Linked DNA regions of Homo sapiens. The protein of the gene in region 2 interacts with the protein of the main gene of each other region in a pairwise test. Each region holds a gene or a part of one and is shown on either strand. Other genes may lie near its edges.

Region 1 (4,582 bases), on a different chromosome or scaffold from region 2:
CATGGTGATATATATATATAAATCAAACCATGTCATTATGCATATTTACATGACGATATGAGCATGTCATATATTGTGTAATCAATTACTACATTGTGCCATATAGTAGCATCCATATCTATATATATCATGATGTGTTGTAATTTATAAACTCATGCAATGATAGCCTCCCATGCACATAACAGCACACACATAGACACAGTGGCAAACAAACATAGATGCAATGACACAGAAACATACATACAGATACACCCAATGTGTTTTTGTTACGTTTTATTATGTGACTCATAGACACATAATAGCACACACATATATACACACAATGGCCCCTTCACATATACAGAAATAGATAATGTCTATTCTATAGATGCATACTATACACACGCATGCGCATAATGGCATGCATATATACTCTGACCTAAACAGCAACACATCATGCAGTGGCGTGCGTGTTGACCTACACACTGCTTTAGGGAAGTGAAGATGTCCACTCCTCCCCATGCACCCCCTACCTCCAGTTCCATTGGCTCTTGCCTGGGTGGAGCCCACAGTCAGGGGCTCTAGGGTTCAGTATCACCGCTGCTATTCTGTGGGGGTGCCACACGAGGGCCCCCGACCTTGGCTGAAACTGGCTTGCCTAATGAGTCCCGGGTTCAGAGTGGAGAGGGGCTGCCTCTCGGGGCTTCTCCCAACACCCCTGGCTCTGGGGACTCTGTCTAGACCCCTGCCACTGCATATAGACTGACTCCTGGCTGAGGGGATTCTCACGTCCTTGTCCCCCAAATTATTTAGCAACAAGATCTAAGGCTAGACAGAAGATGAACTTCCAGGCAATTCGGGACAAAGCCAACCCAACAGGCCATGTGGGCTTCCCTGGTGGCCTGGGACAGCCAGGTTGCCCCCCAAGTGCAATCTGCCAGGAGGAAGCAGAAGGAATTCTCCGTCTATTTCTACCTGTCTCTTTGCTTGTCTTCCCGGTTTCTTTCTCTTGGTTTCTGTCTCTCTCTTTGTTTCATCTCAAGTCCCATCTTTTCTAGTTCTGCCCTTCTCTGTGGCTGGATCTCTGTCATACCCTCCCCCGTTCTGTCTCTATCAGTCTCACCCGATGTAGGGAGGACCATCTGCACCCCACTCGCCTCTGTACTCCGGAAGGTGTGAGAATGTGTGAAGATGAGGGTGGGAGGCCACATGTGGGAGCCCTGGGCTGACATGCCGTGAGAAACCTGCTCTTCCTTCTGTCCCCGACCCTGTCAGCCGGTTCAGCCCACCAGTCCAGCGCCATCACCATGGAAACCAGCAGCCGACTTCCTATTGGTGGGTGGGAGGGGAGGAGGAGGAGGAGGAGGGGAGGGCTGGCTCTTCCCGGCTCACCCCCCCACCCAATTCTGAGGCTCAGCCCTCCTCGGAGCCCACCATCTCGAGGCTCCTGGACTGTAAGGGACCCCTGCAGTCCCCAGAGCAGAGGCCAGCAGGGGCTGAGACTATGAGGCAAGCAGCCCATCGACCCAGGCCTCCTTAGGACCAGCCCAGCCACCCAGCAAGCGAAAGAGCAGCAGCAGAGAGCAGAGCCGGAGATAAAGGACCACAGCGGACCACTGGGGATCACCCCCAGCAGCTCCTGAAGCCTCTGGCCGGGCTGAGGGGTTGCGACAGACGGCCAGACCCACAGACACTGACAGACACACAACGACACCGATGCACACAGCTGCACGACACTGACACACTCAGATACAACCAGGGACAGCATCACATACTGCCACAGCCCTGCAATACAGACACCCACACACACACACACAAACAACTGGCAACTCTGAAATGGGCAGACAGTGACACACAGCACCACCCCCCTCAACACACAGAAGTGGGGGCACCCATCTTCCCAACACATGAGACAGCATTGACCTGCACGGACAGACCTGGAGACACACACACGCACCCTCACCCAGGCGCAGCTGTCGGTGGCCTCTGCACATCCTCCCTACCCCCACAGGGACACCCTCGCTCCTCCACATACTCGCGCACACACACAGCTACCAGCAAACATAGCTCACATACCCCTGGCTCCAGCTCCAGCAGCCCTGGCGCCTTCTGCAGCCTCCTTTGTGGGTGGGGAAGAGCTCAGCCAACCTTGGATGGAGCGTCGGTGAAGCAAGAGCTCAGAGGGGAGAGGGGCTGGCCTGGCATGACCCTCGCCAGTCCCCCCACCTGGCTGGGTGATGTCCCCCGGCCCGGGTTCTGGGGCCCCTTGGCAGTACCATGGAGCAACTGACAACCCTCCCACGGCCTGGGGACCCTGGAGCCATGGAGCCATGGGCACTGCCCACCTGGCATAGCTGGACTCCAGGTCGAGGGGGTGAACCTAGCAGTGCAGCCCCAAGCATCGCTGATACTCCTCCGGCAGCTCTGCAGCTTCAAGAACTGAGGTCTGAGGAGAGTTCCAAGCCCAAAGGAGACGGGAGCTCCAGGCCCGTGGGGGGAACTGACCCTGAAGGAGCAGAGGCTTGTCTGCCCAGCCTGGGCCAGCAAGCATCCAGCTCTGGACCCGCCTGCCAGAGGCCAGAGGATGAGGAAGTGGAGGCTTTCCTGAAGGTAAGGGATCTGTGGAGGGCTGGGGTCTGCAAGGTGGGGGTCTCTCACCATGTCCTCCAGCCTGGCCAGGAGGTGAGGCGAGGTATGCATCCCCAATGCCCACCTGTCCTCTCTTGGCCTGTCTGTGGGTCCATCTCTGTGGCTATCTGTCCTCTCTTCATCGAGCAGAAATCTGAGGGGCTCCATTTCTTTCGTCATTTGTCTGTCCTTCTGACCCTCTTTGCCTGTCTGTCTAGATCTGGCCCTGCTGCTGCCCCGTCCCTCTCTGTGCCTCCTCCTGACAGTGTGTCTGTCTGTGTCTCTTCTTCCATGAGTCTGTCTGTCCTTAGGGGCTGGGGGATACAGGGGGAGTGTGGAGGTGCACAGAGAATCAGTGCAGAGGAAGTAGATTGAGGGGAGGGGGCTTGGTGCTGGGCTGAGGCAGGGTTGGGGTGGGTGTGAGCAGGCTCCTGTAGAAGAGGGAAGGAACAGGACTTTGGGGGAGGGCAGGGGAGTCTGGAGGGATGGGAGTGGGAGCTCGAGCTCGCATGTCCCTGGAGGAGAAGATGGGTAGGAATGGGAAGGATCAGGGAGGAGCAGGAGGGTGCCAGGTTTGGGGGTGTCTATGTGGACAGGGAGGACTGGACAGTTCCTTCTCCTAGGCCTCCTCTGCTCCTCTCTGAAGGCCTGGGACATAGGGGAAACCGTTTCATCTCCATGTCTCCTTGGACCATGGATGGTGGATGCTTCCACAGGGAAGGCTCTGGCTGGGTGACGTGGGTTTCTGAGGTGCTGTCCTCGGTCCTTTCCCATGCCAGGCCAAGCTGAATATGAGCTTTGGGGACAGGCCCAATCTGGAGCTGCTGAGGGCCCTGGGGGAGCTGCGGCAGCGCTGTGCCATCCTTAAGGAGGAAAACCAGATGCTGGTGAGGCTTGGAGACTGGGGTGCTGCGTTCTGGCTGGAGCCAGGCCCTCTGCCTCAGTGCCCTCCTCACCCCATGAACATCTTTCCAAGTGGGGGCTCAATGGAGGTGACAAAATCCTGAGACCCAGAGAGGGTGAACCCCTGCCTAGAGTTGCCAAGGACCCCACTGTGAGCCTAGGGCTCTAGCCCAAGACTTGGGCTGTTAGGACTGGGTCTGTGGGGTGCTCCCTACATGCCCCAATTCTGCCTGACCCCTTGTCAGAGGAAGAGCAGCTTCCCTGAGACAGAAGAGAAGGTGCGGAGGCTGAAGAGGAAGAACGCCGAGCTGGCGGTCATTGCCAAGCGCCTGGAGGAGAGGGCCCGAAAGCTGCAGGAAACGAACCTGAGGGTGGTGAGGAAAGGAGGCTGCTGGGCGGAGGCTGGGTGACCAAGGAAGAGGGGAGCCAGGGCTGGGCCTGAGGGCTGTCTGAAGCTTGGGAGTCACGGTCTCAGCTCAGCACCTAGGAAAGCAAGAATCTAGGGGCTAAGGTGCAGGAAGGGCAGAGGCTGGCCAGGCAAGGAGGCCAAAGGTTTCTGGAGCTGCAGGGGGCAGAGAAGAGCTGGATGGGGAGGTTCCTGAGCAGGCAGGGAGCAGGATTCTGGATTACCACGTGCTGGTGCTGGCGGCAGCCTTCTGCTGAGCTCATCTCAGGGTATAGAGCTGGAGTGGGGGCAGGGATGAGACCCATCACAGTGGCAGCCCCAAATTAGCAGCATCCTTTGATCCTAAACTCAGATGTAGAGTTAATCCTTTCCAACTGCTGGGATGGGGTAGAGTGAGGCTGCTGGTTTTCTGAGACCCCAGTCAAGGTGGAAGCAGGTGGCTACCCCCCTAGGTTTTCATGCTAACTCCTCCTTTGGGAGGAGATGAGGAGTGGGAGAAGTGCCCCAGCCCTCAGGTGACCATTGGCCTTACCCCTCCTCTGGCTAGGTGAGTGCCCCCTTGCCCCGGCCGGGGACCAGCTTGGAGTTGTGTCGGAAGGCCCTAGCCCGCCAGCGAGCCCGGGACCTCAGTGAGACAGCCAGTGCACTGCTGGCCAAGGACAAGCA
Region 2 (4,046 bases):
ATATTCTAGAGTTTGTGCAGTCGATACAGTGGAGAGGCTAGTGCATATTTATTTAGACTTATAAAAGGTGTCTAGGTGATATGCTGGAGGCTTTTAAATTATATTCACAGTACTGTCTTTTATTCATTGTACAACTGTAGATAAATCACCACATTAGCAACAGAAAGTATATATTGAATGCTTAGGGTAAGTGTGAGTGTTGCTTTCCATTCCAGAATGAACTGGGAAGAAGAATACAGTGAAATCTCCAAGTTGGAGCTGACACTCAGTAATTCCTAACTGAACAGTACAGTTCACAAAGGTCCTACAAAACCGTTAGTGGGCAAACTGTTTCCTCAGTGTATGTAGTAGTAATGCGTACAGGTTTTCCAAAAAGTAAACTTTAGAAGTCATTCTAACATAATTATTAAAGTAATTAAATGACTTATTAAAGTAATTAAAGTAATTAAAATGACTTGTTTATTAATTAAAATGACTTGTTTAAGTTCTGCTATGTCCAAAATTATAACATTAGGTGGACAGTAAGGAAAAGCTTCTATTTTCCTCAAATCTTATTAAAAAGGTACGTTGTTGGTTTGCATTTGGGAGCCTTTTACTTTGTACAGCATCATGAATGCTCTGCTTGCTTCTTGAAACTTTTATACCACTTTGTAGATGTTGTGGTTTCAGTACTTTCATTTTATACCTTCAAGTTAGTGATGGATTTTTATAATGAAAATATTACTGGGGCAAAGGGCCTGAAAATTTAAAGCCTGTCTTTGTCAATCTAATAGCTAAGATATTTAATTTGCTTCTTTCTGATTGCTTGTGAGGATGAGTATTTGTAAGCTAGTGTCCTTTTCCCCATTTCTTTTCTTTTCTTTTCTTTTTTTATTTTTATTTTTTATTTTTGAGATGGAGTCTTGCTCTGTTGCCCAGGCTAGAGTGCAGTGGTGTGATCTTGGCTCACTGCAACCTCTGCCTCCTGGTTCAAGTGATTCTCCTGACTCAGCCTCCCTAGTAGCTGGGACTACAGGCACGTGCCACCGTGTCTGGCTAATTTTTGTATTTTTGGTAGAGACGGGGTTTCACCATATTGGCCAGGCTGGTCTCGAACTCCTGACCTTGTGATCTGCCCACCTTGGCCTCCCAAAGTGCTAGGATTACCTGCATGAGCCACTGCACCTGGTCCTTTTTTTTTTTTTTTTTTGAGGCAGAGTATCACTCTGTTGCCCAGGCCAGAGTGCAGTGGTGCCATGTTGGCTCACTGCAACCTCTGCCTCCCGCGTTCAACTGATTCTTGTGCCTCGGCCTCTCGAGTAGCTGGGATTACAGGTGTGCACCACCATGCCCAGCTAATTTTTTGTATTTTTAGTAGAGATGGGGTTTTTCCATGTTGGCCAGGCTGGTCTCAAACTCCTGGCCTCAGGTGATCTGCCCGCCTCAGCCTCCCAAAAAGCTGGGATTGCAAGTGTGAGTCAAGATGCCCGGCCTGCAGCCCGACTTTTGATGAATCTCTACTTTCATTACTAAGTGTTATGGCCCAATTTAATTATTTCCTTGGTAAACTATTTATTGAGTCCCTATTATGTGAATTTAACACTATCCAATATGTTCCGAGGATATAGTAAGAAAATAAAACAAGCAAATAATCCCCTTGTGGGCTAATGTTCAATAATTACAGGTTGTATGTCTATAAGTTTATTAATTTAATTCTTTTTTCAAATTTTCATGTAATTTTAACTTATGACAACTTTGTATTTATTTATTTATTTATTTATTTATTTATTTATTTATTTATTTATTTGAGACAGAGTCTTGCTCTGTCGCCCAGGCTGGAGTGCAGTGGCAGGATCTTGGCTCACTGCAAGCTCCACCTCCTGGGTTCACGCCATTCTCCTACCTCAGCCTCCTGAGTAGCTGGGACTACAGGCACCCGCCACTGCACCCGGCTAATTTTTTGTATTTTTAGTAGAGACGGGGTTTCACCATGGTCTCGATCTCCTGACGTTGTGATCCGCCCACCTCGGCCTCCCAAAGTGCTGGGATTACAGGCGTGAGCCACCGCGCCCGGCCGACAACATTGCGTTTTAATTTCTGGTGTGGTTATTTCCCTCTCTAATGTGTCAGAAATTTTTTACTTGTATCATTCGTCTTTCCCTTCCCACTTTTTTTTTTTTTTTTTCTTGAGACGGAGTTTCGCTCTGTCGCCAGGCTGGAGTGCAGTGGCGCGATCTCGGCTCACTGCAACCTCCACCTCCCAGATTCAAGTGATTCTCCTGTCTCAGCCCCCCGAGTAGCTAGCTGGGATTACAGGCACGTACCACCACGCCCAGCTAATTTTTGTATTTTTAGTAAAGACGGGGTTTCACCATGTTGGCCTGGATGGTCTTGATCTCTTGACCTCATGATCCACCGCCTCGGCCTCCCAAAGTGCCACTTTTTAAAAATAGTGCAGTAGTATAGCGTCTTTGTTAGGAAAGCACTGGCTTCAGAGGGCCTGGACTTCATCTTCTCACTCACTCACCGTGTGAACAAGGCACTTCGTCTTTCTGGGACCTAACTACTCCTTCAGTAAAATGTTGATAATTTAAAAATCATAGGATTTCTGTTGTGACGAAATGAGATGCCTATAAAGTACATGCTCCTGATTAGACGCTATCGTTTCTAGTTGTTAATTAAACCTGTTTGGGAAACAATGATATTTTTACTATATTCAGCCTTCTAGGAGCATACGATATCTTCAATTAGTCAAGACTCTGTAACTTTTTGAAGGTTTCATCATATAGATCTCTTGCATTTATAATCAAGTTAATTTTTATATTTTATATTTTTATTGTGACATCTTTTTAAATCTCATTATGGATAAATGGGAAGCTTTTTTTTGTAATTAACTGGTCATTGATGTTACTTAATTGTTGTCTTCAGTGTTGATCCTTTTAGATTTTCTAGGTAGGCAGTTGAAGCATCTGTTGATAGTGATGGCTTTTGTCTGGTCCTGTCCAATAGCTATACCTCTTTTGTTTCATATGTCACCATACTCTTTAGAATAGAACAGTATTTGTACTTGTTGCCAAAGCCCTTGTTTTGATCCATTATTCACTGGGAAATGTTTTTGGTGCTTTACTAGTGAATATACTGTTGGTTAGGATTCTTGGATAGAATTCTGGTATTCTTTGTTTATCCTTTTTCAAAAATTACATTAAGAAAATAAAATACATCAAGAATTGATACTGAATGTTATCAAATTCCTTTTTTTGTATTAATAGAGGTGAATGCCTAGTTTTGTTTTACTGATGTGACAGATCAGATTACTAGGTTTCCTGTTATTAAAGCATATTTGCATTTCTCGGGTAATTTCTACCTGATTATGACTGTTTTTTTTAATACACCTTTGAGTCTGAGTTTCCTGTACTTTTAATTTTTACATGTATGTTCATAAGAGAAAGGTCTATCAGAAAGGTGTTAACTGAGAAACATTTTACCTTTATATGTGCTCTAGAATAGTTTTTTTGTTTTGTTTTTGGTATGTAAATCATCTGATACATGAAGTTTTGAAAGAATTCACTCGTGAAATTACCTGCATCCAGACCCTGTTTTTTTTAGCCTATTGCTTTTTCTTCTTATTCAAAATTAAAATATGATAATTGCACGATTTCAGAAAAGTGGCTATTTTCAGATATAACATAATTTTTCACTTATTTTTCCAATATCCTTTATGTTAGCTATAAGTCTTATTTTAGATTATATTCTTCCTAAAAATATACATGTATATATATAAAATGGTGGAGTGCAGTGGCTAATACATGTAATCCCAGCATTTTGGGAGGCTGGGGTAGAAGGATCACTTAAGCCCAGGAGTTGGAGAACAGCCTAGGCTACACAGTGAGACTCAGTCTGCACAAAAAATAGAAAAAATTAGTCAAGCATGGCGACTCATGCCTGTGTTCCCAGCTACTCAGGAGGCTGTGGTAGGAGGATCACATGAGCCCAAGAGGTCAAGGCTACAATGATCTGTGATTGCACCACTGCACTCCAGCCTGGGTGACAAAGTGAGACCCTGTCTC
Region 3 (4,046 bases), on a different chromosome or scaffold from region 2:
CAGACCGGGGAAGAGCCATTGAAGGCCTCTCCAATGCCCAGTGCAAAGCTCGGAGCCAGGTTTAGTTTGAAAAAAATATACACTTAACTTGACCGTTTTCTATTTCCTAGAAAAGATGGGCACAGTATATTTCTAACTAAAAGAAAAAAAGGACAACCACAATAAAAAAAAAAATGGAAAACAACCAAAACATTCAGCCCCTCAGAGAACATACAAAGTGTGACTAGCGTATTCAGTTTTGACTAATTCACATATCCATGCATTCAAGAGTTTAGAAAAATATATACCAAAGTGGTAATACTGATTACAGGGCGGGTTTTTAAATGCCCTTTTTATTTGTATTTTCTATTGTATGTAATACTTTGTAATTTGAAAATTAATACTTTTAATTTTAACAAACTATGGTTATCAAATTAGGTCCCAGTTTGAACACATATTTTTCTTTCTCATACAATCTGGTGAAGTTTCAGTAAGTCAGCTTTTATATCTTCGTTACTACAAACATCCATCATGAAGCAAAAACAGAACCCTCTTCTCCAGGCAATCACGGTCTATCTTGGGGTGGGTGTGGCCACACGACACATTGACACATCTGTGTAATTCCAAAGCCATGGTTACACAGAAGAAAATTATTCAAAAATGATTTCCCCAACTGTTCAAAATACCACACTGGATGTACAAAGTTCATGTACTTGACCATCTGCAGCAAAACAAGGGCAAGAGAGAGAAGGCTCAGATCCCCCACGATGGTCAGAGCCCTTGTCACTCATGTGCAGGGGCTTCTCTCCATGCTGGGCCCAAACGTATCACAGCAGACACCATGACCTCGGCCATTCACTGATTGCTCTAACTGGACACATTCAAGTACATTGAAATTCAGTTTCTAATGTTGGGATCAAATAAATTAGGTCTAGAAATGAATGGGGCTAAATCATGGATTAAAAATTTTGTTTGCTTCTTGTTTTTCATTAAAAAACAAAACTATACAGTTATACATACAATCCTCACAGGGACATCTTCTGCTTTCTGCCCCTTGGTTTTGGGTGATGGTGCAACAACCACCGAGGGTGAGCCCTGGGAGGACCTGGTCACGGGGGTGGCAGAGCTGGGCTCATAAGTCCTCTTGTCCTTTCCTGGGTTTGGCTGCGAAAATAACAGGGGTGGCGGGGAGGGGACAAGAGGGAAGCAACCAGTTATCCAACAACTTGACCATCTTCTGTCTTTAGTACATTGCTCTCTAGGTTTTGGTTTGAAGCTTTTTTTTTTTTTTAACAATTCTCATATTTTATAAATAAATAAGGATAAACTGGAACATCTAGATAAAATACCTTTTTCTTTTTCTGTTCATCTAGAATGTGTTCTGTCACTCTTTGGACAATTTCATCAATACTCAATCCTGAGAGTGAGTTCTTGTTTTTGCTTCGCACTTTTTTAATAAAACCAGCAAGCTCAGTGCTGAAAGGGAGAGTGAGTGATGAATGACAACAGAAAGTTCTCTACTGCTAAGAAATATTACATGCCAATATTAATCCAACAGCCCAACCCAAAGAAACAAAGACAAATGCACATAAAATTAATCTGAAGACCACTGATAACAACAATAACTATCTAAAAAGCATAACTTTTTTTTTTTTTTTGAGACAGTGTCTCACTCTGTTGCCCAGGCTGGAGGGCAGTGGCGCGATCCCTGCTCACTGCAACCTCTGCCTCTCAGGTTCAAGCGAGTTTTGCCATTTTTTTTTAAGAAGAGATGGGGTTTCACCATGTTGGTCAGGCTGGTCCCGAACTCCTGACCTCAGGTGATCCACCTGCCTCGGCCTGGCGTGAGCCACCATGCCTGCTGGCTAATCATATTTTAACTGCCCCATTGTTTACAAATTTCAATTTTGAAGCCTGTAATTAACACTGTCTCAGAAACTGAAATAATAGGGCACATGCCAAAGGTCATTCCTGAGCATAGAGTCCTTTGATCCGAGCTGCACTTCAGAGACACCGCCTCTACCTCATCATCTTTCACAGCTGAGACAAGAGGCAACTCTGTCCCCCTCGTAACAACCTGAACAGCGGAAACCAGAGGTGGAGGCAGAAACGCTACTGAAGAGCCTGCCATCATCCCAACTCTATTTACAGCTCTTGCTCACTCAGGTAAGGGCAGCTTTTTCCCACATTCACAAGGACCCCTTGTTAACATGTCCACATGCCCCATTCACTATGGAATTCCATCCAGTCTTCAACCTCACACTCTAACAAATCAGAGGTCTTATATAACAAGGTTTAAGTTGCTGCTGCCTTCTTTGCTATATATAATTTTGTCCCCCCAAATGATGCAAAATTATTGTTTTGCGTTCATTTATTGATACTATAACACTAGTTTTAGACAGTGCTATTGGTCTCATCAAAATCTTAGCAAATTGTCATGGGTTCTGATGAATATTACCCAGTGCTCAATGTTTTCAATTTACATATGCACATTAAAAAATTTATTTGAGGCTGGGTGTGGCGTCTCATGCCTGTAACCCCAGCACTTTGGGAGGCCAAGGCGGGTGAATCACTTGAGGTCAGAAGTTCGAGACCAGCCTGGCCAACATGGTGAAACCCCACCTGTACTAAAAATACAAAAATTAGCCAGGCTTAGTCATGCATGCCTATAATCCCAGCTTCTCAGGAGGCTGAGGCAGGAGAATCGCTTGAACTCGGGAGGGAGAGGTTGCAGGGAGCCGAGACTGTGCCACAGCACTCCAGCCTAGGCAACAGAGTGAGACTCTGTCTCAAAAAAAAAAAAAAAAAGAAAGAAAAAACCCACCAATTTATTTGAAAATACTTATCTCTATATTTACAAAAAGAAAGAAATGTAGCAACTGTCTTTCTGAGCAAAACAATTATGCAACCCTTTTCATGTTAACACCTAACTAGCCATGATTTTATCTAATCAGGAAACCTCAGTTCGATAAAGTATTAAACACAGTCACAGACATTTTCTGTTCATACCTGTTGTAACATGGGAATACCACTGACAGGTGCTCAATAATACTATTGAACGGCTTTTTTGGAGACTGGCTTGAACGCGCAGCACGTCCTGGAGGAACAGGCTGCTTCCGATCAGCCACAGGGCTTCGTTCTGACAGAGCTGCCTGGCCAGCCCGTTTTGGCCCTGTCAGCTGAGTGGCTTCAGGCTGACCAGGGGGTGGCCCTGGCAACAGCGCAGAAGGAGCCTCCCCTGGGGAATCACCAGCAGAGAACACACTAGGATCCCTGTGAAGTGCTGCGTGGTTTCCAGTCACGTCGCTTGCAGAAGTCACAAGCCCTTGGCCATCGTCGCCTGAAGACTCAGGGAGTAACTCGGGATGAACCTGTGAGGAACACACCACACCATGGATCACTTAGGGCTTCCCTTGAAGGATGAAACGCCCAAGGACAAAGGCCGATGAATAAATACAGTAACGCAGCGCAGAGGCTCCGTGCACAGGAAACCTGAATACCATGAATTAAATATTTTCGTTTTAAAAGAATTCTTGACAATAACTTGTTAGTTATTAGAACAAGAGTAGGAGGGCTCAGACTTCTAAATAATTATCTCTATAAGTCACTATTTTCTCTGTAAGATGAGACCATTTTGCCTGCCTACTGGCCCTCCTTCAGCCTCTACCTGGTTACACTTTTCCCCTTCTGAGCTAAACCATGTAGCTGACAGATGGAACATCATGGCCACCACACTCCCCAGAGCTGTCTCCATCCCAGGGGGCCGCCTCCTCTTCCCTGCCAGCTCTCCTGGCAGCTCTCAGGCCTCCGTCCACGCCTGCAGTGCTGACACTCCTCCCCATGCAGCTGCCTGAGGCCAAATCTTTTTAAAAGTTTGCAGTCTAGAATATTTTCCTGAGATCCAAATCTGCAAATCCACTTGGGTGATTCCAAGGCAACTCAAAGTCAGTGTTTTGGAAACCAGCCTCAGGCAGCCTCCCCAGTCCTGCTCTTCCCCTAGTACTCCTGGACGGAAGCCCAAGACTCACCCTCAACTCCCACGTGGACACATGGGGCCTGGTCTCCTG
Region 4 (4,009 bases), on a different chromosome or scaffold from region 2:
AGCCAATCACTTGTGGTTACTATACTATTTTAGTAACGACCAATTTTAATCAATTCAAATTATATATTTTCATCTTGTCCCTCCAAAAGAAAAAAGAACAACGCATTTTTATCAAGCAAAAGATAAGTGGCAATAATACAAGGAATAACGAACATATAATATTTTTTCATTAACAATCCAAACACTACAAAACATAGAATATGCAATTTAAAAATGGAAATACAAATTAATGAAAAGTTGGGTACATGTCACATTAGCAATGCAAAAGACCAGCTTAAGCATAGTTTCTCTAAATTGACAATTAATAAAAGGAAAGTTCCCTTTCTCAAATATGCACAAAAATATTTCAGTCACTTCTAGGGAAAGATTAATCAAAATGTTCCACTAATTCTATATTACAGCATGTATTACTAATGGTTTACAGAACGTAAGCGTCATCTTGCATTTAAAATTTACAACCTTTATCAATCATTACACACTCATTCCATCCAGTCTGTCAAAAATAAAATTATTTCATTTCTATATTTATGAAATAACTATTGATATGTTATGAATCTCAAGTGGTGAATATGTATGATGGAGCCAGTGATCAGAATAATGTCATAGATCTGAAGTTGGTTGAGAGTCAAACAGAGAAAACCACCTCTGCCTGGCACATTTGTGTATTGACTTCTGCAATACTTCCTACTATTTCTAAAATAATTCTAATTGTATATTTTCTCATTCTAAACAAAATCTAAGATTTTCGTAAATTTTCTGTCCACTTTTAGAGTATATTCAAAGTCTGTCCAGTCATACCGCCTGACAGAATGTTTCCTCCTGCATTCATATTATCCCTACAATTCTGAGTCCAGTTGAATAAAGTTAAGAATCAGGAGTTAACAATATGTTCCTTGTCTTCTACATGTTCAGTGATTCCCACTTTCATGAAGTAAATTTTATGGTAAACTGTACAATCCTAGGTAGAGCTGTATGATGCAAATGAGAGAGAAAATATTCAAATTTTAATTTTTCAAGCAACAATCCCAATGTCCACTGCAACCTGCGTCTCCGAGGGAGTTCTGCAAGTTCATGCTTTCAGCCAACATCTTACAATAAGTCATGCTTCACGGGTATAGTTCTAAAACTAACAGCAATGGGAAATCACATCTCTAACTCCTTCGAATCCACCTGAACAAAAAGCACCTACAGTCCGTGTCAGCCTCAGCTTTCAGCTTTCTGGTTCATGTCCAAAAATTGCCCACCGAATTGACTAACATTCACATGAAAGTGGCAAAATTGAGGATGGAGAAGAACCAAACAGCAGTTCTGGAAAGGGTTCCAGTGGCTACCAAGCGGTCCTTTGGTGTCATTCACTGCTGCTGCTGCTGTTGCTGCTGCTACCACCACTGTCCTCTTGCTTAGGGGAGGATGAACTGTCTCGGACTGGCAGCAGGTCATAATGACAAGGGATGTGACTGTTCTTTGGGAGGTCATATGGATCCTGGGAGAGACGCCCATTATTGCTGAATACTCCTTGGACAACACTCACTGTAGGTTCTGTGATAACCAAGGACATATTAATTTATCAGCAAAGGAAATGTTTTTAAAAAGAATATGGCATTTCTTGCAAATGTCAAACACACCAAAGGGACTTTTAAAAAAATATAAGGAAATGCTGGTTTTAAAAACATGATTTTAAAAATCATCACATACAGGTGGCAACTCTGTGTAGTTGGATCAACTGGCAAACACAAATGGTGTTCAGAACAAAAGGAGGACCACATAATCGGGATGAAGATATTAAGGGAATATACAGAATCCTGGAAATAAATCATGGTCTGAAAAACACCTTGGGGATAAGGTAGGCCAAGCCCCTTATTCCACAGGTGAGAAGACTGACATTCTCAAACGTTAATTCAGTTCATGAAAACACTCAACATGTTCAGAACTTTAGGACTCAAGACTCAGGCTCTCATTTGAGTTCCCATCCTACTGTGGCAGGTTTGTGGGACAGTTTAAAGGAGAATTGTTACTGACTTTCCAAAAATAAATTTAGTTCACTTTGACTTGCATTTTAAAAAGCTGTCTTAATACTTTAAAAATAAATTATTTTGTATATTTTTTCCCAGGGATGTATCTGGCATAAAATAAATTACTAGTAGTAAAGTAGGCACTTCATTTACAAGTAGTAGAGAATATTTTAAAGTTAAAATCATAAATACTCAGAGAGACATAGAAATAGAGACAGAGAGAGAGAGAGAAATGAAAATATATAGCCCTATTGTTTAGCCAAGAGTAGTGGTGGAATGTTTTATCATTTCCCAAGTGGTATCTGCAAAAGACAATCAAAATAACTCCAATTTTAAATTGAATTCATATTAATTTGCATCACATTCACATCAGAGAATATTACTGCTCTTTTGGACAAGTTTAAAAGTAAAATGTTTCAATCTTGCTAAATGCATTATATTAATATAATGAACCAGGAAATGGAATCACCTGTTTAATCCACTTGAACCATTTGTTTCGGCTAAGTAGATATATTAGCTAATATGATACATATGCTATCCACATGTGTGCCAAAATATTCACTATGGTTACAAAACAAAAGATGGATGATTAGGTGAAAAATAAAGAAACTTTACCTTAAATTTTTCTAAATAATATTTTCCCTGGAAAATTCCTTTGGCACCAATTAATATGATCGCTAAAAACACAGGTCGCATCTATTAATAAAATATGGTGACAAAACCCCGTCTCTACCCAAAATACAAAAAATTAGCTGGGCGTGGTAGTGCGTGCCTGTGGTCCCAGCTACTTGGGAGGCTGAAGTGGGAGGATGGCTTGAGCCCGGGAGGTAGAGGTTGCAGTGAGCCAAGACTGTGCCACTGCACACCACCTGGGTGACAGAGAGACCCCATCTCAAAAAATACATAAAATAAAATAAAATAAAATAAAATACGGACCATTATTTTCAATAAGATTTCTATGACCTGCAACTATTATATTCGTAAAGACTTTAAAATTGTTTTTAAAAACTTAAGCACTCGGTTCTTTCTATGGTTAAGGGAACTCACCAACTTCATAGACATTCCTGTTGGCTGAAGTTGAGTTATTGATCTCTGCATATGGGGAATCTCTTCGTGCCGGCGATTTCATCTCCACATAACCACACTCTGAGCTTTTCGGGATAAGTACAGGTGGGTCTTTAATAGTGGCATATGGGTTCTCAGAACTGCTTAGGGAGCAGTTACTTGAATTATATTCAGAATTCTTTCCCAGGTCTGTGAAGAGAAATGAGAAGAGAAAGCTAATGCTGTGTCACTGGCAACATCATTTCTTGGTGATATTTTACTGTTTTTCTTTATAGCTAGGTTTCCATAATTCTACACACTGAAAATAATACTGTACCTTTTCCACTTGTTTTGGAGAGAATCTGCTATAAAATGACCCATCCCTAAAGTAGTTTTAGCTCCTCTCCAAGATGAGTACTGACATCAATATCATTAACTGATTTCATTTTTATGATCACATTAGAATATAATCAATTACGTTTTGTTTTATTAATAGAAAATTTACAGAAGTTCAATCAAGAAACCAGCTGTTGATGGCCCCAGGAGCACCAAGAGGGCTCTATTATCATGACAAGAAGGCATTTGTGCTGGGAGGACTCCTAGTAAAAGCTCTGTACTAGGCATCTAATCATGCACACCCATCCTGAACAGCAGAACTTGGTCAACATGTAACCATGTGGATCTTTTCTTATTGTCCCGGCTATTTCCCTTTATATGTTTCCGTCTCCCCATAAGCCATATTTCTTTTAAATGAAATATGAGTGTTTCCTCAGCAAACTGAATCTTTTGTTCCCCAAAGACTTAAGCTCTACCAAGGACCACCTCTGGTCACTTTCTTGATGTCAGTCACACATGTTTGTGTGTTTGCTGTAGTAACTGACCACACTAAAAATTCTACATTTTCTCTTGCCATTCTAGCTTGTTTAAAAACTATTTCAGTCTTTGAGGTTAAA
Region 5 (4,046 bases), on a different chromosome or scaffold from region 2:
ATATATTGGGAGGGGCCCTCTAGAAATAGATGAGATGAGGTGACCACGACACCAATGTGTCAGGGCCGGGCGTACAAAGCAATGCTCCAAGTCATCTATGAAACACTGGACCCTGAACCTAAGAAGCACGGGAAGGGCAGCACCTCGCTTCCATGCCAGCCACATCCTGTGGACACTACGCCGTCACCAACGAACAAAATCCATTGTTCATTTTTCCGCACTGAACGTATCTCTCCCTCAGGGGGAGAAAAATCCAAAATGTTATTTTCACAAGTTGCCTTACATTCTGTAAGAAAAATGCAGGCAGAGCAATTGCATAATCCAAAGAACCAATTTAAGGAGTTTTAGAAATGTAAACTATTGGCTGGGAACACTGACTTTCTAGGCAAAGCTCCACAAGTTATGCTGAAGCCCTTCTCGTCAGTCACCATGTAATTATCTTTGATTACTCGGACACTCATGGCTCCACCTTTCTCAAAGGCCCACGCAAACACACATCTGGAAGCCTGATGCCTTCCCGAGTCAGGACCCTTCTTGGCAGTCATCCGCCAGCAGCTGAGAGAGCCAAGAGCTCGGAGGCAGGGGTCCTGCTCCCGGCTTTGTGAGACGATGAGCAGGTCACTGACCCTCGTTGTTTCCCATGGACCCATTGGTAGCATGAGGGGGCTGACTGCAGCACTGTAGCCTCAGCCCAGCTGTGATAACACAGGGTGTCAGGCTGCATCCAGTTTAACTTCTAGACAAGAAGTTCAACGCATGTATTCAACCCGAGTTTACAGAAAGCCCTGGATGAAAAAATCTCTCCAATCATCGGCATGACCAAACTCAGAGCAGGCTGAGCTTCCATATAAACAACTAAGGCTTGTCTTGGACTGAACCATTTGAGACTGCTTATAAGTGAGCAGTCTGCATCCACCCAAATGACAATTTCCTAGGGTTCAACGTCATAAATATGGATTGTTTTCAAAAATCAAAATATCATAGATATAAAAAGGGACTCCATGCCTTAAAAAGATTACATGTTTTAACTTTATAGAAATAACTCCTGATTGATATTATCTCTAAACTTGTATCTTCACATGTGAGTTATAGTAAAAACAAAGAAGAGACAAAGAATATTTCAGCCCCTCTCTGGGCACCCTCTCCCCATTTGCCTAGCCACAGTTCTGTGACCTCTCTGGCTGCATTATCAAAGTCACCTTGCTGGGATCCTTTCCTTGACTGTATGATTCTGGGTTATGGTCTCCATCTGGGTTTTTCTGTAGCATCCCCAGCTTCCTGCATCAAAACACGTTATGCTTTGCTGTGATTCTCTATGCACTCCAGTGTGTGATATGCCAGGGAGCAGAAATGACACGCAAGGCTTTTTTCTCTGCTGTATTCACAGTCTTTAAGAGAGTGCCTGGTAAATGTCAGGTACTCAATAAATATTTGATAAACACGTGAATGAATAAATCAACATGTGGATTATGCTTTTTATGTCACAAAGAGCAGATTCTGTTTTTACACTAGGATGTTATTCACTGTCCTCTTGGCTTCCATCACTGTAATCGGAATCCTGGATCCTTTTATCCCATTAAGAGCTCCGTGTAATCCTGGTGATACGGGACTAAGGAAGATGGGCCTCTCCATGTAATGAGACTCCTATAAGACCTACATCAGTTGATACAGTGTCCCCTATTGTTAAAAACACATCTTGGCACCACTCAGAACAAGTACCTTGAGCTGCCTCAGCACTCTTTTGCCATTCGTGCTAGAAACAGCCAAAGCCAGACAACCAAATTACAGATGCTTAAATGTTAATGCCAGACACCAAGGCTCCGTGAACTTCCCTGTTGAACATCTGACCCCGACTACTTGAGGACATGAAACCTAACTGTGCAGCTAATTACACCTTCCAAGGGCAATGACATCGGGTCCTATGATTTTATTCAGGAAAGCAATAAGGCAATCGGGGTCACTGTGAACATCATTTGAAGGGAAGTAACTTCTTAGCTTTATTCCACAAATGGTCTATTAGTCATTTTGCCTGGTATCTGACCTAAATGTTTATTGCTTAAAATTGCTCCATTTTGACCTAAAGCTAGTGTCACTTCCTTTCTTTTTTTTTTTTAACTAATACTACAAAAATAATGCCAATTATGGTCCACGATGCACAGAATGAACGAAGTAAAACTCATTATCCTCTCATCCTTACAGGAATGGTTACTGTCACTAAAGGACATGATTTTTATTTAACATAAAAATTAGCAAAGTGTTAAATTACAAAGAAGCTATACACAGTAAATCTCAGCTAATAATTCGCTAAGGACAAAAATTACTTTTTGATTGGGTTCCGTGGCTGTAATTCTTACTTGAAGGAGAGTGACATGTTCGCATCTTGAAGCAACTCAGTGGTCTGGGAGAGATTTTGTATTAATTTTAACATTTTTGAAAGGATCATTTTTCCCTGAATAATACTTTTTTAAAAAATATGGGAGGAAGGCAATTTGAGCACAAGACTCTCAGTTTTCCCCTATGTGGACTCAAAAGCAATAACTAATCGAATACGGTAATAGGCAAAAAAAAAAAAAATCTACATCCATGCTGAAAATTAGGTACAATCTGCATGCCATAGACTGCAAGAATTACTGGGACTCACAAGGGACTCAAATACCTCACATAGAAAACAGAATGATTAGGGCAGCCAGATAAAACACAAACACCTAATTATGTTTTGATTTCCAATAAACAGAAATATTCCATAGGGCATGCTTATAATTAACAATAAATATTTTTAAATGGTGTTTTTCTGAAATTCAAATGTAGCTAGACATCTTGTGTTTTATTTCCCAAATCTGGCAATCCTCAGCATGGTATTGTCATAGAAAGAAAATAGTTGTCCGCTGAGTAGATAGCTGTAAGATATCTGATATCTAGGCAGCTGACAAATCTACCCTGATATCTGCAAGAGCAAAGGCCATGGGCCATGTGGGTGCTCCCGCACCTGACAATATTCCCAATGCTGGGAGGCAACCAGCTTTGCCATCAGCTGAATCAGAGACCCAAGCATAGGGGGCGCCGCGCTGCACAGAAAGCCCTAAAACATCAAGGCGTCTTGCTGATGCTGTTCTTCCCTAACAGAGACAGTGATGGGGGCAGGAGGTTTGACATAGCCACACTGCTCCTGGAATGAGTCCAAACCTAAAATCACTTACAGGAAACCAGTGCCCATGTGGCCCCTGCACCCAACTCACAGAAGGCACCTTGGAGCAAGGGATCTCCCCTGCTGGGCATGTCAACACCCCAGAGCATCCTCACCGTCCCCCCAGGGATGCCGGGTCATATGGTAACATGCAACGCCAATGTAAACAAGGCTGCCCTCGGTGAAGGATATGTAAATAAACAAAAACAGAAGGAGAACAGGACCTACCAATAAAAGCTGCAGAGTAACGAAGGAAATTCAGAAAGACATTCAAGAAGTAGAGGAATAACATACCTTTGAAGAGTATTTACCATAGAATATTGAAGTACCTTTTATACAAAATGACTTCGGAGCTCACAATCATCAAGAAAAGCAGAGCCTTTGTTGTTTTGTAAGGAAATAAGACTGAGATGGAAGAAGATCCTGAAGTATTAAAAGTAAGGAATTTAAAATGGTTTCAGATGCAATAACACAGATTTGAAAAATGCAGAAAATTGAATTTATCATATGAGAATGGGAGCTTTTGAAGCTTTCCCTACAGCTAAATAGAAAAGGCGAAGCAATGGAAATGATCAGTAAGAGGCTGTAACCATGTGAGATGCACATTAGATGTTCAATATTCAGATGATGGAGCTCCTAATGAAGACACCAGGAAAATGCAAAAGCAGCAGCATTAAAAGGCAAAAAAAGAAACGAAAACATTCCCGGGTTTATATACATATACAAATTCAAAGTAGATCTTTACATTTCCCTGATTCCAGAGAAAACCGAAAACACCACCTTTTAGGTATTTCTAAAAAACACAGTTGCATCAAGGGTAAAGAGTAATTCTATAAGCATTTAGTTAAAAGTAAAATTTTAA
Region 6 (4,776 bases), on a different chromosome or scaffold from region 2:
TCTCTTTCCCACTAGTCCTTTCCATCTACTACCTTTGTCGCCCTAACATCCACCCCCTCTGTTGTATCTCGTATTGACTGAACTCATGTTCCCAAAATCTGCTACACCCTTTCTTGTCTACAAGTCTTTGCTGTGCTGTTTACTCTGCCCGAATTTCCTTATCCTTCTTCTGAACCTGGCAGATTCTTCAGGACTCAACTCAAATGTGATCTCCTTGGGAAGACATTCCTGACTCCCTCAGGCATAATTAACTAATCCTCTTCCTCTTTAGCATTCTGTTCAAAATCCATAATAATGTATATTTTATTGTAATTATCAGCTGATGTGTTTGTCTCCCCTACCTCACTCAAGGAATCTATCTTATTAATCCATAATTGAAAGAAAACATGAGCATTAAAGTTTATAGTGGCTTAGTGTTCTTGAGATTTTTTGATTTATGAAAATTTGGGGGAAAATCATAAAGGAAAAAATGAGAAGTAACTGTGGGGTTTTGAAGCCAATAGGAATTTTGATAGTTATTCCCTGATCTCACGGAAGGCAGACGATATTCTCTCAATTGATATGCTCTATTGTGTCTGCTTCTTAAAAATGTAATAAAATTAAGATTTGGCATAAAGAAAAATACCCCAAATTTCCATCTATGTTGACACATGGCAAAAAAGTCATAAATAAAAAAAATGGGAATATTTTTAGAATTTTAGACAACTGGTATAATGCAAACTTATGCATATGAAGAAGAATTTCAGGAAATTTATATAATGCGACCTTATCCTACATAAAAAGAGGATGGGCTAATAATGGTATAAAGACTTTTTTAAAAAATAGATTGGTTTTGAAAATACAAACCCTGCCAAACTGAATTCTGTAGACCTTCAATTTCAACTTCCCATTCCATCATATCTTCACTTACAGGCTTAGCAGTGATACCCTTGAAGTTAAAAACAAAATTAAATCAGAAAAAACTTATTAAGTATTTATTGAAGTTTTGAAAATCATATACCAGGTCACACTGAATTCTAAAAACTCTAAATTTTCTTTCCTTGATAAGTTTATTTATTTGCTGCTCTGGGGAAGTGTTACATGTCTTATTTCACGGAAGTTAATATAGATCCCAGAAAACATATGCAATAGTAATTAAAAATAAATCATAAGTGTGGAAATCACAAGTGGGACTAGAGAGTCAAGATTAGAATGTGTGGCTTATATACTGTTTGTGTAAATCAATAACCAATTTAATATTCAAATTTTAAAAGAAAGAAATAGTTGGAAAGTGCATGTTTCTTCAAAACATTTTAGAGCTATATGAATGCTATATGAAAGGCATGAAGTGGGAACATTTTCATTAAGAAAAAATCCAAAATTACACTTGTATATAAAAGCAAAGTTTTCCTATACTTGAGGAGTTGTTCCAATGGAGGGACAAGAATGTATTTCATAGAAAACCTTATGAATTACGTTAAGTAACACACTTACAAACACATAAAAACACTTCTGAGCATCCACATAGTTATTAAGTATGTTAGTGCTTGTCTGGGTGAGCCCTGTCTCTCTATTATCTATATTTACATATTCCTTCATTGGATTCTCTTTCAACAGAGAACTACAGAGCTCAGGATGAGCAGAAACAATATCAAATGTTAGGTCCATGCCCCAGGAATGTTCGCTGTTGGACTCCATAATTGTTCCTAACATCTCCAGTGAATGCAGTACTTTTATAGCAGAGGTAAAAAATGAACAATGCCACTGAACTACACCTGAAGCAACTGTGGGAAGCACTCTATACCTTTCATGGACAGCTTTCTTTCTGTTCTTTCTCTTAAGCACTCCCTCTTCGCCCCCTCTTCCATTTTTCATTTTCCGTAAATCAGCCTGTGGCAGCCATGGACATTGATAACCTCATTGGTGGCGTTTAAGCCCAAGGACATTGCTTCTTTTGTGTTAAAACTATAAAGGGAAGGCATTTATGTGTCATGCTGGTAAAAGTACACTAGACAGTAAGCAGTGGAACACAGGAATTAAGAACTAGGGCTTTGAAGTCCAAAAACCCTGTAATGGAATCATGGGGCAAAATCTTTACAGAATATTTCTGAGGCTTAGGTTTTTGGTAAGTAAAATGAAATACTACTTATTGTATAGTATTATAATTAATGAGCATAAGCCTGCACCTACTAGTCACTAACTACATGACAGACCCTGATATTCAGTGCCTAGATCCACATAAATTACTCTGCATAATATGTTCAATATTGTTAAGCATTATTATTTTGAAGTAATAATAATTGTTATTAATATGAAACACATTACTTCAGTGAAATGGATTTATTAAATAACAATACTGTAGTGGCAAATCAGGTTTAACTAAATTACTACTTATAGAATAAAATGGGTTAAACTGCCTCTTAAAAATTATTGCACAATGAAACACATCTCTCCACGTGCCCAGTACTTACCTTATAATTGTTCTCCTTGAGATCACAGAAGTCTCTGTGCAGCAAGAGGTAAGCTCTGCCGTGCATGATAGGCAGCGGAGGGTCTGACACTTGTCCCCAAATGCCTCAGGTTTACTCTGAGGCAGATGTTTGAAGTTATGGGTCACTTTCCCACACTTAGTAAACTGATATAAGTTACTTGCTTTCTAGAACCTCAGAACGGTACCAAGATAAGCGGCTTCTAAAGTTGGGATATAACAATGACTTTTTCTCCTGACTCCTCTAAACGAGAACTTCCCGAAGGAAGACTTGGGCACTTCCTCATCTGCGGCGTTTCACTGCAGTGCCGGCTCACAGCCCAGTCTCAAGACAAACTTGGATGAGTAACGGAGACAAGCCCATGTCGTCGGCGCGTGAGTGGGAGTGAGAGGTGTACGCCTATCAGGGTCCTAGCAGGTTGTCTTCGCTTCACAGGTGCAACCCCGCAGCCACGCACCGGAGGAAGCAAATCGGTTGCCAACCAACAGGCCCCCGTGGGGCCGCCGAGAGACGGAGGCAGGGGGTTGGCCGCTCTCACCCAATCAGCGACAGGGGGCAGGCCTCTTGCTATCTCCACAGCCAATCCTACAACAGTTTCCCCTTTGAAAGGCCAATGAGATTCGTGGTCAAGGCAACACCACGCCTTCTCAGGCCACGAACATGGACTGTACAAAACTAGTGTAGAGGATGGGGTGAGGTCCCAGGACCCAGCATGTAAGTCACAGAAGCCGTCCCACGAAGTCTTTCTTCGAAATTATCCTTCCTTTTTCTTTGACTATCAAAAGATATAGTAAGTGACTGGTAGGTACAGGTCTGCATAACAATATCTTAACTTACATGGCGAGTTACCATTCACAGTAGTGTGCATGCTATTATGTCATCAAACCCTACAATCACCCTGGGAAAGTGCTCCAGGAACAGGGAACTGCTTAAAATTTCTCTGATTCCCATCTCTTCCCGCACAGTTTCGCACCTGCTGTTCCTTCTACCTAGGAGTTTACCACATTCCTTCCACCCCTTCAGCCCTCATTTCCCCTTCACTCACTCATCCTTCAGATTTTAACGACTCTTTAAGGGATCCTTTCTTTTGTGATCCCACAGGACCTTCTATTTGCCTCCTAGTTAACATTTGCCATACGGCATCACAATTGTCTATTGTCTTCACCAGAGTGGGAACTACTGAAAGACACGGTTCCATTGCCAGCGCCAACTACAAAGCCTGGCATCTTTGTTCAGAATACTTTCTTTTTTTACTTTTTACTTACTAATTTTATAGAATCCGGATGTTCATTTAGTCCATTCATTTTACAAATATTTATTAAATACTTTTTTTTTACTTGAAAGATTCAAATGAAGTAAATGTCTTTATGGCTCCAATATACAATAAACAAGTATGCAAAACAAAAATCATGATTTCAGATGGTGATAAACGTTATGTGGACAATAATAAAACAGTACCATGATAGAGATTGGGGTAGGTCATTAAGGATTAGAAATGGTAGTCAGGAAATGCCTCTGTAAGGAATGGGGTTTTGAACTCATACATGAAAGATGAGAAGGAGCCTGCTACATGAAATATTGAGGGCAGAGAGTTCTAGGAAGAGGAAAACAAGATATTTTTGAGTCAGGAAAGAGCTTGTCTTGAAAAGGGAACAAGGGAAGGTCAGGGAGGTTGTGGAGGAGCCTGGGAGGGGTGTGATAAAGATGGGCACTATACAGTAGGAAGTTTGGGCTTTATTTGAATAGCTATGGGAATCCATTTAATGGGTTTAAACAGGAGAGTGTCATGCTCTGATTTATTTATTTATTTATTTATTTATTTATTTATTTTATTGATCATTCTTGGGTGTTTCTCGCAGAGGGGGATTTGGCAGGGTCATAGGACAATAGTGGAGGGAAGGTCAGCAGATAAACAAGTGAACAAAGGTCTCTGGTTTTCCTAGGCAGAGGACCCTGTGGCCTTCCGCAGTGTTTGTGTCCCTGGGTACTTAAGATTAGGGAGTGGTGATGACTCTTAACGAGCATGCTGCCTTCAAGCATCTGTTTAACAAAGCACATCTTGCACCGCCCTTAATCCATTTAACCCTGAGTGGACACAGCACATGTTTCAGAGAGCACAGGGTTGGGGGTAAGGTCACAGATCAACAGGATCCCAAGGCAAAAGAATTTTTCTTAGTACAGAACAAAATGAAAAGTCTCCCATGTCTACTTCTATCCACACAGACCCGGCAACCATCCGATTTCTCAATTTTTTCCCCACCCTTCCCGCCTTTCTATTCCACAAAACCGCCATTGTCATCATGGCCCG
Region 7 (4,046 bases), on a different chromosome or scaffold from region 2:
CCCACATCGGCTTCCCAGGGTGCCGGGATTACAGGTGTGAGCCACTGGCGCCTGGCCAGAAGAGCAACTCTTTATATACTTAAGAATCATTTGTGTTTTGTAAACTTTTTTTTTTTCCATATCCTATGTTTTTCCATTGGGGTGTTGTTTATTTGTAGGAGCTCTTTATATTTGGACACTTTAGTTTTACAAAATAAGCCCATCTCCCAAAGTGTGGCTCTCAACATGGCCTTTCTCACACGGCCTTTCTGTGGCACAGGTGTGTAAGGTGAGCTGCACCGGTAACCACTGAGACTGGATTAGCATTTTCCAATACCCTTGCCTTAGCTGACAAAACTTCAAAGCCCTGGGGTCAAGAACAAGTGCAGAGCTGAGATCCACGTGCCGATGTGTACACGGATCTCAGACGTGATCCAGTTACTTAGACAACAGTGGAGTGTGTGGGTTCCCGTTCAGCTATGGTGAGTGGGGTTGTAGAAGTTGGGAGTGAATTCTCACTTGTCTGCTTCCCCTGGAGTACAGTTCGGTGTCCTCTCATGCTACCTTTTGCCTTTTTTATCCTTTGGTTTTGGTCCGTACAGAAAATTGGAAACCACTGAGAAGTACAAAATGAGAGCAAGAACAAAAACCACCCTGAATTTCACCACCCAGAGCCAGAGTATGGGATGAGCACTGGGGCCAGGCCCTCCTCCTCCTCTCTGCAGATGGATTACAGGATTTGCATGTGTTACACTGTAGTGGTGGCATGTGCTAGCCTATAGCCTGTTCCCCCCCGCCAGGGCAGTGTTGACAACACTGTGTCATTCCCTGTAGCTGAGTTGTTACATTGTTTGCACTGTTCCACTGCTCAAATGCTAGTGTTTCCTTGTACCTCTTCCTGCCTTTAAACTTCGGGAAGTTTGAGCCAGAGCAACTGGGACAGCAGAGGTGTGGACAGTGTGGGTTTACTGGCACCAATGTGTGACAACAGACACGGCGAAGCTTCCCAAGCCTTGGTGTCCAGCGGTTTCCTTGGGGTTGATCACATGCTGTGGGGGTGGCTGACTTTTAGTTCCCAGCCCCTCCAGAGGTGGAGTGGACACCTTGTGGCCCCAGGCCCCTGCCCTAAATCACGTACTTAGGCTGCCTGTGGGGCCCAAGGCCCCTACTCTTGGAGATGAGGCCAAAGGCAAGGTTAATTCTTCACTATGCAGAGGGTGTACCCTGTGCCAAGGCTTTTGATGTCTGGTACCAGACACCATTTGAGGAGTAGCCACTGCCTGCAGAGGGTAGGGGAGGCTGGGTCTGGCCGTGTGTGCCGTAGGCCTGGCTGGTGGTGGGGGTGAGCGGGCAGGGAGCTCACTCGTGTCTTGAAGACGCTGACTCTTTCAAGTCTGGACAGTGCTGCGGCTGTGAAGTTCTGAGGTTGCCAGAAAGATGGAGACGTGGGTGGAATGTCACCTTACTTCAATGTGAGCTTGCTGTCCAGAGGTAGTGTCTCACTTTGAACTTGGGAGAGAGGGGATGTCCAGTCTGCCTGCCCGCTGTGTCCTGGTTCCTAACAGTGGAGCTTCTTCACCCTGATGGAAGCGCGGAGGCCCAGGGCTCCTCCAGGGGTTCTGACTCCTCCAGAGGGACGGGGCCTCTGCTCCTGGCATCGTGCATGGCCCAGAGGAGGGAGGAATCTAGAATTCTCTCCACTCAATGTGGTTGCCTGTGGCAGTTGGCTTCTTGGAGGAGGTCATTTGAGGTTGAGAGCTCCATGAGTTGGGACTCGTGGTGGATGCAGATACCGCTGCAGGCTGGGCGGGTGGGGGGCCTCTTCATCCTTGGTTGTAGGTGCTTTGCCAAGAGGGAGATGTCTTGCTGTGTTGACTCGTCTTTTGAAGGTTGTGTGCTGGTGTGATTCTCTTTATGGAAGCACCTGGTAAAACTCTGGGAGGCTGGCATGGTGGCTCATGCCTGTAATCCCAGCATTTTGAGGGGCCAAGGTGAGAGGATCCCTTGAGGCCAGCAGTTCGAGGCCAGTCTGGCCTCAACATAGTGAGATCTCGTATCTACAAAGAAAAAAAAAAGCACAAGTCCAAGAGTGGGCAGTGCATCTAGTTTAAGTACCCCTAATCTGAAATTCACAATCCTCCAAAATCCGAAATTTTGTGAGCATAGGGAAGATGCTCAAAGGAAATGCTCACTGGAATGTTTCGGATTTTGGATTTTTAGGTTAGGGATGCTGAGCCAGTAAGTATTTGCAAATATTCCAAAACCTGAACAAATCTGAAGTGCAAAGCACTTTTCGTCCCGAGCATTTGGGATGAGGGATGGGCAGCCTGCAGCATGTGAGCAAAGAGCAGTGTTTGGCTCTTGGCAGTGCCCCTTTACCTGTGCGTTCACTTTTTTTTTTTTTTTTTTTTGGTGGAGCGGAGTGTCTCTTTGTCACCCAGGCTGGAGTGCAGTGGCACGGTCTTGGCTCACTGCAACCTCCACCTCCTGGGTTCAAGCGATTCTCCTGCCTCAGCCTCCTGAGTAGCTGGGATTATAGGAATGAGCCACCACGCCTGACTAATTTTTATATTTTTAGTAGAGATGGGGTTTTGCCATGTTGGCCAGGCTGGTCTTGAACTCCTGACCTCAGGTGATCTGCCCACCTTGGCTTCCCAAAGCTCTAGGATTAGAGGCGTGAGCCACTGCGCCCGGCCTGCTCTTGGTTTTGAAAGTGATGTCAGCAGTATAACTTCGTGTAGGAAATGTTTGCCTTAGGTGGTGTGGAAGATGGACCATGTGATTTGATGCAGTCCAGGCAGCAGATTACAAAATCCCGCCTCGATGGTGTGGCTTGGGGTTTCTCCTGACCTTGGTGTAGGGCACGCCTTGCTGCCTCCCCTTTCTCTAGTTGAACTGCAGGACAGTGGGTACAGTTGTGAAGTTACTGCCACTTTCAACATCTCTTGGCAAATTCCTCAATAATCTTTTTAAAATTCCTTTAGAATTGTGGGTTTGTGAACTTTTCAGCATCGGGTGGAGTGAAATTGTTACCCTTTCTCTCAGTGAGAAATTGGAGGGGATTATTGTGGCAGGAGGAGTAGGTTTGGGGGATGCGAGTGGGGCAGGGAGAGGGGCATAGGGTGAGTTTTATCAGGAGCTGCTTTCAAGGAGAGGACTAGGGTGAGTGGAACCATGCTGAGCTGGCAGGCAGCACCCTGTGGCTGGTCCGCAAACATGGGGGCTGCTCCCCACACCTGGAGGCTTTTTATGCCTCTTAGATCTCAGACTCTTAGATCTGATGCACCCGCTCCCCAGAAAACCGCCCACGCTTAGCACATCCACCTCCATTCAGTTTTAGAGGTTCCATGTACTCCTAGCCTCTCTGCATTTCACTGAGGCCCTGCACCGCTGCAGGATGCCCCTGAGCTGGGCGAGACCCTAGGCTCTGTCCCATGGTTGCTTTGTTACTGTGCTGCTGCTGGGAAGCTTCCTGTTGAAGGGTTTTGAGGCGTAGCCAAGATGGAAGTTGTGGGCAGCAACGATTCTTTCCCAGGTAGCAGTTTAGAACCGCAAGGGACGGAGGGCCTGCCACCTGGGCAGTCAGGAGACTCTTGGCCCGAGGGACTGAGGCCAGGTTTTCCAAGCCGAAGATGAGGACACAGGGTGACGAGTGATACATTGATTTTGACATGTGTGTTTATGAGGGAGAAATCCTCCCAGTGGAGTCTGTGTTTCCGAAAACAACTGTGAGAGCCACGGCAGCACGTGGGAAAGGCAGAGCCAGAGAACCATCTGATTCGCTCTGCCCAGGGGGTGGAGAGAGAGCACCTGGCTGCTGGAGTGTGGGTGTGGATGGTGCCTGGTGTCCTCAGTGCCCTGTTGGGGCTGCCCAGGCGGCTCTCTGGAGGGGGGCTTGGGGCAGTGCCAACTCAGTCTGGGAGTTCAGGGCTCAGCCACTCGACTCCTGGCAGAGAACGGAGGGTGTGGAGATGGGTGGTTACTTGCTAGGTTCTGCTGGTCTCTGGGCCCTGAACCCAGTGACTGTGGAGGGAGTGCTGAGACCCGAGACCCGAGACCCTGCACAG

What was found.
Region 1: the proteins of CADPS2 (region 2) and TSPOAP1 interact in a two-hybrid assay, tested with the Homo sapiens proteins (one large-scale study listed by BioGRID).
Region 3: the proteins of CADPS2 (region 2) and TTC3 interact in a two-hybrid assay, tested with the Homo sapiens proteins (one large-scale study listed by BioGRID and IntAct).
Region 4: the proteins of CADPS2 (region 2) and MEGF10 interact in a two-hybrid assay, tested with the Homo sapiens proteins (one large-scale study listed by IntAct).
Region 5: the proteins of CADPS2 (region 2) and TMEM132D interact in a two-hybrid assay, tested with the Homo sapiens proteins (one large-scale study listed by BioGRID).
Region 6: the proteins of CADPS2 (region 2) and UBE2U interact in a two-hybrid assay, tested with the Homo sapiens proteins (one large-scale study listed by BioGRID and IntAct).
Region 7: the proteins of CADPS2 (region 2) and WDR4 interact in a two-hybrid assay, tested with the Homo sapiens proteins (one large-scale study listed by BioGRID and IntAct).

What each region holds. Positions count from the first base shown.
Region 1 is NC_000017.11:58,325,595-58,330,176, reverse strand, and holds the start of TSPOAP1 (peripheral-type benzodiazepine receptor-associated protein 1), read left to right. Parts: upstream 1-1,381; 5' UTR 1,382-2,256; coding exon 2,257-2,589; intron 2,590-3,386; coding exon 3,387-3,494; intron 3,495-3,755; coding exon 3,756-3,884; intron 3,885-4,448; exon of another isoform or gene 4,449-4,463; coding exon 4,464-4,582. UniProt on the Homo sapiens protein: Required for synaptic transmission regulation. It probably controls the recruitement of voltage-gated calcium channels to the presynaptic membrane, and modulates neurotransmitter release.
Region 2 is NC_000007.14:122,876,380-122,880,425, reverse strand, and holds part of CADPS2 (calcium-dependent secretion activator 2), read left to right. Parts: intron 1-4,046. UniProt on the Homo sapiens protein: Calcium-binding protein involved in exocytosis of vesicles filled with neurotransmitters and neuropeptides. Probably acts upstream of fusion in the biogenesis or maintenance of mature secretory vesicles.
Region 3 is NC_000021.9:37,194,979-37,199,024, reverse strand, and holds part of TTC3 (E3 ubiquitin-protein ligase TTC3), read right to left. Parts: intron 3,351-4,046; coding exon 2,989-3,350; intron 1,456-2,988; coding exon 1,329-1,455; intron 1,144-1,328; coding exon 1,000-1,143; intron 1-999. UniProt on the Homo sapiens protein: E3 ubiquitin-protein ligase which catalyzes the formation of 'Lys-48'-polyubiquitin chains. Mediates the ubiquitination and subsequent degradation of phosphorylated Akt (AKT1, AKT2 and AKT3) in the nucleus.
Region 4 is NC_000005.10:127,454,658-127,458,666, reverse strand, and holds part of MEGF10 (multiple epidermal growth factor-like domains protein 10 isoform a precursor), read right to left. Parts: intron 3,267-4,009; coding exon 3,060-3,266; intron 1,540-3,059; coding exon 1,349-1,539; 3' UTR 1-1,348. UniProt on the Homo sapiens protein: Membrane receptor involved in phagocytosis by macrophages and astrocytes of apoptotic cells. Receptor for C1q, an eat-me signal, that binds phosphatidylserine expressed on the surface of apoptotic cells. Cooperates with ABCA1 within the process of engulfment.
Region 5 is NC_000012.12:129,701,365-129,705,410, forward strand, and holds part of TMEM132D (transmembrane protein 132D precursor), read right to left. Parts: intron 1-4,046. UniProt on the Homo sapiens protein: Regulate neuronals morphology via inhibition of the WAVE regulatory complex (WCR), a complex that controls F-actin cytoskeletal dynamics.
Region 6 is NC_000001.11:64,201,791-64,206,566, reverse strand, and holds the start of UBE2U (ubiquitin-conjugating enzyme E2 U), read right to left. Parts: upstream 2,945-4,776; 5' UTR 2,517-2,944; coding exon 2,451-2,516; intron 2,027-2,450; exon of another isoform or gene 1,784-2,026; intron 929-1,783; coding exon 847-928; intron 1-846. UniProt on the Homo sapiens protein: Catalyzes the covalent attachment of ubiquitin to other proteins.
Region 7 is NC_000021.9:42,865,738-42,869,783, reverse strand, and holds part of WDR4 (tRNA (guanine-N(7)-)-methyltransferase non-catalytic subunit WDR4), read left to right. Parts: intron 1-4,046. UniProt on the Homo sapiens protein: Non-catalytic component of the METTL1-WDR4 methyltransferase complex required for the formation of N(7)-methylguanine in a subset of RNA species, such as tRNAs, mRNAs and microRNAs (miRNAs).